Linked DNA regions of Homo sapiens: region 2 is linked to region 1. Evidence: fine-mapped expression QTL. A gene starts in region 1. The other region holds a variant in brackets. All regions are shown on one strand. Distances are between the middles of the regions. Region 1 holds the start of ZFP64 (ZFP64 zinc finger protein). Region 2 has its middle 55 kb from the start of ZFP64.

Evidence for each region. PIP is the estimated chance that this variant, and not a neighbour inherited with it, causes the effect.
Region 2: its variant is the best candidate, but not a certain one, in a credible set for the expression of ZFP64 in whole blood (TOPMed, PIP 0.68).

The regions. Positions count from the first base shown.
Region 1 is chr20:52,189,300-52,193,692 of GRCh38, forward strand. ZFP64 (ZFP64 zinc finger protein) reads right to left here and starts at 2,480. Exons shown (of 6, transcript NM_018197.3): 1 at 2,292-2,480. The coding sequence starts at 2,337. RefSeq lists enhancers at 1,335-2,191, 3,232-3,361 and silencers at 1,952-2,191, 2,552-2,821.
Region 2 is chr20:52,134,464-52,138,856 of GRCh38, forward strand. It overlaps a transcript of ZFP64 not described here. Among named protein-coding and RNA genes, the nearest start is that of ZFP64, 55 kb to the right of the region's middle. The variant C/T (reference allele first, on the strand shown) is at 2,559.

The DNA of each region.
Region 1 (4,393 bases):
GCAGGAGAATTGCTTGAACCTGGGACGTGGAGGTTGCAGTGAGCCAAGATCATGCCACTGAACTTCCAGCCTGGTGACAGCGAGACTTCATCTCAAAAAAAAAAAAAATTGCATAAGATCATAATATTGTAAATATTCAGATCATAGTATTGTAAAACTAATCCTTTTCCTAATTTTTTTCCTTTTTTTTTTTGAGATGGAGTTTTGCTCTTGTTGCCCAGGCTGGAGTGCAAGGGCACGATCTCAGCTCACTGCAACCTCCGCCTCCTAGGTTCAAGCGATTCTCCTGCCTCAGCCTCCGGAGTATCTGGGATTACAAGCGCCACCACCACGCCAGGCTAATTTTGAATTTTTAGTAGAAATGGGGTTTCTTCATGTTGGTCAGGCTGGTCTTGAACTCCCGACCTCATGTGATCCGCCCGCCTCAGCCTCCCAAAGTGCTAGGATTACAGGCGTGAGCCACCGTGCCTGGCCCTTTTTCCTAAACATTGCATAAACATTGTGCTATATCATTAAAATCTCTTCATATATATATGATTATTTAATGGCAATACATTATTCCATGGTGTCCATGCGTCATAATCTTCTCAGCAACAATAAGGTATTTACATAATTTCCAATTTTTCCCAAGTTAAATGATACAAGACTACCTTTGTGCATATATGGTTAGATAAAATTATGCCTCATAATTTTCTGAAAATTTGTAAGATATTTACATTATGTCCAATTTTCCCCAGGTCTAGCTAAGACAAGAAATCTCTGTTCAGAAATACAGTTTGGTTGACTTGCTAAGGAGACTGGGCTGAGCACTGTGATAAGCCATCTTGCAGGGATACACTTAAGCACTTTGCAATCAATGGATGGAAGGAAGGAAACCTTTTCTTCTCTGGCAGATACTGAGATACCCATGGAACTAACAAGGAAACAAGGAAGTGAGACATGAAGTAGCTTGCATTGCTGACGATTCCTTAATGATGGAATAGGACTGACACCCAGAATGAAAGGATTTTCATAACAGATAATGTCACTGGTATGTGGAAAGTGCAAAAGTAACGACATAGACCTTCGTTAGAATCTTGACACTGTCGCTTAACAACAGTGACTTTAAGCGTGGGTTTTCTCATCTGAAAAATGGGAGGAGAGGTTTCTAATCCATGGTTTTTGTTTGTTTTTAATTTCTCCAAGAAAAAACACGGGCTTGTTATGAGAATTAAATGGGATGGTGCTCGTACCAGCACAGTCCCCCCTCCCCGCCAGTCCCCCAGCATGTTACCTGCTGGGTTCTTACTGAGGTACACTATTTAAACATGGACATATCTGAGCCCCACCTAGGAGATACTGAGTCATAACAGGGTGGGGTGGGGAGGATGGTGTTTAGGAAAATCTGTGCTTTTCACAGTAATGCAAGGAATACACCGCCAAGTTTGGGACCCAGTGTCTCCCAAACTGTTAACAGTAGCAGCTAACAAGCTGGGAGCTTACTATGTGCCAGATTTTCTGCAAACCCCTGGTAGATGGGTTCTCAAACTTCATGTGCTTCAGAGTTGCCCAGGCAGCTACGAAGGACAGCGGATCCCCAGCCCCACCCCCGAGATTGAATGGGTGGGGCCCAGAAAGCTGTTTTAAAATACACGCTCTCGCTCCCAGGTGGCTGGTTGCACTCAGTCTCTGGACCACACTTTGGGAAACAATGCACCGGGAGAAACCAGGGACTTGAAAAACGCTGATGTCCTCCTCGGTTAAATAAAAACTGAACCCCAAACCCAAATAAAGCGACCACGGCCCCGTTTTCCATTCAGATCTCCACCCTTAATGAGGAAAAGGCTTTGCAATGAGCCGGCAGGACCTCGTGAGACCTGGTGATTCCCCCAATCTCCAGGCTCTAATTTTGAGCCACTGAGGCAGAAGTTTTCCCATCAGTGTTGCCCCGTTTACCCTAGATTCCTCCCTTTCTCCTGCCCGCCCCAAACTCCGCCTGATGGGGCGGGAATGCCCTTAGGGGGTGGCGATTGTCTGAACGGCGTGCCCTCCCCCACTGTTCCCTTCCAAGGGGTCTCGCAAGGCTGGAGAGCGCCCCCGGTCTTGCGCCAGGTCGGGTGCGCCCCCACCCCAAGCCCACTCCGGCGCCCCCTGCACAGCGCGCCCGCCGCGGTCCCCGAGACGCGGCTCCGAGCCGTCACCCCGATTTCGGGGCCCCGGGCCTGCTGGCTGCGTCGCAGACGTGCTTGGGCCCGGGCCCCGGAGCGCGCACTGGGCCCCGGAGCGCGCACTGCTCCCGGAAAAGCACTTACTTTGCACCGAGCCCGCGAAGCTCTCGCCCTCGCTGCTCGCGTTCATGGCCGCAGACTGGGAGGTCCCCGGCCGGCCGGGATGCCAAAGTGGGGGACGCTGATCTACATGGTGCAAGGACTTTTCCTTTTATTTTTCCACACCCCCCACCCTGCCTTCTCCCAACTCTGCGAGGCGGGGAGGACGGATGTAAAGCAAGCTGCACTTCCGCTGCCTAGAGGGCGCTGGCCGGGCCCGGCGCCCCAACCTGGCTTTGCAGCAGCGGCTCCCCGGGGAAGCGGCGGGCGAATCCCGAGGCCCAGGCCCGCGGAGCCCCCCAACGCCCCCGGGGAGCTGGATGGCCACGCGCGTCCCGGCGTGCTGGGCGACCGCGGGTGGCGAGGGATGCGCCCCTGCCCGCACTCTGCGTTCTCCGCGGACGCGATTGGCCTCCCCGGCTCGGGGCGCCTTTTGCACCTGCAACCCCAGGCGTTGGGCCCCCAGCGCGGCCGTGCAGCAGCGCTGCTCCCGGGACGCCTGGGTGGTTTGCGGGGAGACCCACGTGCGGCTGCCGTTGCGGGGTGGGTGCGCGGGGCGCGGCGAGCTCCGGAGAAACCCAGGTTGGGCGTGAGCGCTGGGCAAATCAGCAAAGCGCTGGGCGGGTCCCTTGCCCCGCTAGGGAGACTGAGAGGACCGCGAAGAGGTGGGGTCGTAGCGCGGAGGGACCCCTGCTCCAGGAGCTGCCAACTTTATCGTGCATCGCAGTCGCCTGAAAGGCTTGTTAGAACACACGCTGTTGGGCCCACCCTAGCGTTTCTGCTTCAGTAGGTCTGGGGCGAGGCGTGAGAACGAGCATTTCTAAGTTCCCAGGTGATGCCCCTAGTGTTGGTCGGCGTCCACACTCTGAGGACAGTGACCTCTCTGCTCTGTCCCTCATGTCTTACTACTACTGTCTCCCCCGGGCTCCTGCGTCAGCCCTATTGTCTCTCTGCCGACCCTCCCAAGCCTCAGACCTCTCCCAGCCTCGAGGGATTTGCCCATAGAGTCTGTCCTGCTTCTGAAGGTCAGCATTCAAATTCACACTCAGGGAGGCCATGCTTGGCCTAATCTAATCATTCTAATATTGCAGCCCCCTCCTCCTCCCCCAACCACTCCCTGTCTCCTTCCTGTTTTTTTCTTTTTCTTTTTCTTTTCTTTTCTTTTCTTTTCTTTTCTTTTCTTTTCTTTTCTTTTCTTTTCTTTTCTTTTCTTTCTTTCTCTCTCTCTGCCTCTCTCTCTTTCTCCCTTTCTTTTTTTAGAGAGGGGGTCTTTCTCTGTCTCTCAGGCTGGAAGAGTGGTCGGATCCTAGCTCATTGCAGCCTCCAACTCCTGGGCTCAAGCAATCCCCCCTACAGGCGTGGGCCACCACCCTGGCTCACTTTTTAATTTTTATTTTTGTAGAGATGTTGCCCAGGCTGGTCTCGAATTCCTGGCCTCAAGCGATCCTCCATCAGCCTCCCAAAGTGCTGGGGTTACAGGTGTAAGCCACCATGCCTGGCCTGCTTTGTCCTTAAAAGGTGTTAGATGGAACATATTATGTATCTCGAGTATATCTGCTTAGATATAATTTAGTTGTATATTATCTGTGTTCTCCTCCCCCTTATTTTCAGTAAGTCCCTGTAAAAATGGGGATTAAAAAAATCTCTTTGCTTCACTGATGTAGTCCAGTGACTTGGCTGGTGCCTGACACATAGTAGGCTTAGTAAATATGGCTTGTATAATGAATGGGATTTTCCCTGCTGCTGCCTCTAAGGCTTGGTTTCTGCCTGCAGCAGCTGTTTATTCTCAAGTGTTTGTGAAGTGCCAGGCACTGGGCTAGCTGCTGGAGGTAGACCAGGGAGGCAGTCAACATGAAATAATCAAATCAGTACTGTAAATATATATATATTTAATATATAATATTTAATATATTTAATATATATTTATATTTATGTATATATATATTATATATAAATATATACAATATATATTATATATAAAATATTATATATTATATATTATATATTTATATATATAAAAAATATATATAAAACTTCCTTTTTTTTTTTTAACCTTAAGTTCTGGGATACATGTGCAGAACGTGCAG
Region 2 (4,393 bases), 55 kb before region 1:
TTTAATCAAGTGTCATTGTGACTTAAGCCAGAGCTGCTGGGGGACTGACAACTTTTCAGCCTAAAGCTGCTTCTTTGCGATGCTTTCAGGAAGGGTGGCATCAAGGTTCACAAACTGCCTTATGGCTTTTCAAGAGTTTATAGGCCATTCCCACGATAGGAAACACAGTGACTTGGAACGTTCCAGGAAGGGGTTTCATATGTTTGTTTAATCACATGCCGATAACAACAACAACAATAACAACAGTAAAAAATCCTACAGAAGGTCTAATTTTTAAACAGAATTCTCCATTCCAACATAAAGAGAAGCCATAAAATACAAATTCAATCTAATTTGAACTTACGGACCACTTTTTTTTGTATGGTCTGTGAGCTAGGAATGGTTTTCACATTTTTATTGTTATTTTTATATTTTTTTGAAATGGGGTCTCACTCTGTCACCCAGGTTGGAGGGCAGTGGCACAATCTCGGCTCACTGCAACCTCTGCCTCCTGGGCTCAAGCGATCCTCCCACCTCAGCCTCCCAAGTAACTGGGACCAAAGGTGCACGCCACTGCACCTGGCTACTTTTTTGTGTGTTTGCTAGAGACAGGGTTTCACCATGTTGCCCAGGCTGGTCTCGAACTCCTGACCTCAAGTGATCTGTCTGCTTCGGCCTCCCATAGTGCTGGGATTACAGGTGTGAGCCACTGTGACTGGTCTGGTTTTCACATTTTTAACTGGTTAACAAAAATCAAAAGAAAATTAAATTTTGTGAGGTGAAAATTTTATGAAACTGAAATCTCAATGCCTATGAATGGAATTTTATCGAAGCACAGCCACGCCCACTGCCCTGAATATTGACTGTGGCTATTTCCCTGCTACCCCAGTGGGGCTGAATAGTTGGAACAGAGAAGATATGGCCCACAAAGCTGAAAACATTTACTATCTGGAGCTTTACAGAAAAAACACTGCTGATTCCTGCTCTATGGCAAAAGGTCTGCAAATTGGGAGTTTTGTACTATGGAAATACACAAAGATGCTTTTCTTTTCTTTGAGACAGGGTCTCGCTCTGTTGCTCAGTCTGGAGTGCAGTGGTGTGATCATGGCTTACGGCTCACTGCAGCATTGACGTCCTGGGCTCAAGTGATCTTCCCACCTCAGCCTCCCAAGAAGCCAGTACTACAGGCATGTGTCATCAAGCCCAGCTAATTTTTTGGTAATTTTTGTAGAGGCAGGGTTTCGACATGTTGCCCAGGCTGGTCTCAAACTACTGGGCTTAAGTGATCCTCCTGCCTCAGCCTCCCAGAGTGCTGGAATTACAGGCATGAGCCACTGCGCCCTGCCAAGATTTTCAGTATATACAGGCATGATTGGCTGGGTTCGGTGGCTCACGCCTGTAATGCCAGCACTTTGGGAGGCCGAGGTGGGTGGATCATTTGAGGTCAGGAGTTCGAGACCAGCCTGGCCAACATGGTGAAACCCTGCCTTGACTAAAAATACAAAAATTAGCTGGGCATAGTGGTGTGTACCTGTAGTCCCAGCTACTCAGGAGACTGAGGCAGGAGAATTGCTTGAATCAGGGAGGTGGAGGTTGCAGTGAGCCGAAATCACACCACTGCACTCCAGCCTAGGCGATGGAGGGAGACTCTCTCAAAAAAAAAAAAAAAAAAAAAAAAGAAAAAACCAAAAAAAAGAACAACAACAACAACAACAACAAACAGGCATGATTAAGGACATCAATTCTCAGATCCTTAACTTCTAGGCATACCTTTTCCTAAAACTGATCACCTAAGAACGCGCAGAGAAAGTGACCCATTATTAATAAACCATACTGAACCAATGCATGGAGCCATAAAATCTGAGATATCACAGCATCAATGTTGAGAAGGCAAGTGATTCCATAATTGGGAAAGAAACCCCAGGTTGTTTTCAGTTCTTTGTTTTTAATAAAATTGACCCAATTAATGACAACTGATCAATATGTGATTTTCTGGCATAGAATTCAGAAAAAATTAAAATAATTGAGAAATATTGCTATAACAATACAACTTGTATTTCTATATTCTTATTTATGTGAATAAAACTCAGAGTTTACATCAATAAAAAAGAATTTGACACATAACTGAAAATAAACTGTATCTCATTCTAGCAACTGCTGAAAAATGGTTTTTTAAAAATTCATAATCATAAAGAATATATAAGCTAACTAAAAACCAGGCCTATCTACCTCATTAAAATAGAAAAACACCAGTACCTTGCTTATATTTAATAACTGTTTTTCAAATTATATAATATATATATGTTGCTTTGGTCAAAAGTTCCTAATTATCTTGTTTTTTTGAGATGGAGTCTCACTCTGTCTCCCAGGCTGGAGTATAGTGGCGTGATCTCGGCTCACTGCAACCTCTGCCTCCCGGGCAAGTGATTCTCCTGCCTCAGCCTCCTGAATAGCCGGGACTACAGGCATCCACCACCACACCCAGCTAATTTTTGTATTTTTAGCAGAGATGGGGTTTTGCCATGTTGGCCAGGCTGGTCTCAAACTCCTGACCTCAGGTGATCCACCCACCTTGGCCT[C/T]CCAAAATGCTGGGATTACAGGTGTGAGCCACCGTGCCTGGCCCTAATGGTAATTTGATATTGAAGAAATGTCTAAAGCTTGGAGCCCTGTGATCATAGAAAATAAAAGATGTGAATTTCAATTTATATAGCCATAATTTTGTTGCTGAGAAGTATGATGAAATAAATAATAATTTTTAAGATTAATAATATTTCCTATTTTGAAGCCCTGCTCTCTATCTGAGAAGTTTCAGAGATGGGTTCTCTCCACCTGACTGGCTAGAATGAGCCACTGCCTTGCTTTTTTTCCTGGTAACACCATCATTTTGTCTCAACTTTGCTGGGCTACAGGACCTAGGGCATCTAAGAAGTGGATCAGATTGGGATCCAACTTTTCATCTCCACCAGAACAGAGTTTAACGACTACTGAAGAAAAAAAGATCTTATGTCCAAGGGTATAATTCATCTGCCAGGACAAAAGAAGTCCCACCTATGTGCCCTTCTGAGGAATATGCTCCAGGAAGTACTCCAACCAAATGAAAATGAAATCAGAGTAAAAGCGCAACATAGGGAAGCTGAAGGGTGTAAGAAACTATGGTGAACAATGAATGCAGTAATTTTTGGTTAAATCTAAATGGAGATGGTCAATTGGGAATTTGAATGTAAGAGACATACCATAGGGCAAAACTTAACAAAGGCCTAGAAATAAACTTATAAGTCATCTCAGCAAAACTCAGAATTTGAGGATGGCGGCTGTAGAAGATGAAGTCCAAAAGCTTCCTCTCATCAGGGAAGAATTTCTTAATGGAAGATTGAGGCACGGTTAATGTTTACTTTTTACACAGCAGTAGGCAAATATATATTTAACAATCATTGTTAAATATTGGAAAGCAGGCCCGGTGCACTGGCTCATGCCTCTAATCCCAGCACTCTGGGAGGCAAAAGCGAGCAGATTGCTTGAGCCCAGGAGTTCGAGACCAGCCTGGGAAACACGGAAAAACCCCATCTTTACAAAAATAAATAAATAAATAAATAAATAAATAAATAAATAAATAAGCAAGCCAGGCATGGAGGCACACATCTGGAGTCCCAACTACTTGGGAGGCTGAGGTGGGAGGATCACTTGGGCTGGGGAGGTAAAGGCTGCAGTGAGCCAAGATCACTCCACTGCACTTTAGCCTGGGAGACAGAGACCCTATCTCAAAAAAACAACACACAAAAAATTGGAATGTAACTGTCAGCAGGATGGAGATGAATATATAACTTTCTAGAGATAGGAAATAAAGTTAAAAAGGAAAAAGGAGAAAACCACAAACTTTAATAAATAGCAAATATTAAATAAGATGGAAGTGAATAATAGCACATATATATTACTGTAATAAATACAAATGATTTGAATTGTCCTATCAAAGACAAGGAGAGGCTGATAAAGAAAGATACTGAATAACAGAATGGGCAGATATGAACCAGGCAAATGAAAAAAAAATACAAAATAAGACTTAGAATGTTATTATGAGATAAAGCATGATTTAAGGCCAAAAGCTATTATTACATAGAAGGAACAGGTACATGAGAAAAAAAGGAAAAAATGACAAAGAACGTAGAACAGCTACAAACTTTATATGCATCAAACAACATATGGCAAAATATAATAAAAAAAAAAGCACCCTGGTAATATAAGGAAAGCTTAGTTTTAAAAATGCAATCCTCGAGAGAGATTTTTTAAATATTTCTTTCAGAGTTTACCAAATAGATACAAACTAAGAAAGGATTAGAAGAATTGAATAATTCATAAAAATTTAAACTCTACAGAGACTGTGTATTCTTCTCTAATAGTCACCAAATACGTACAAAAA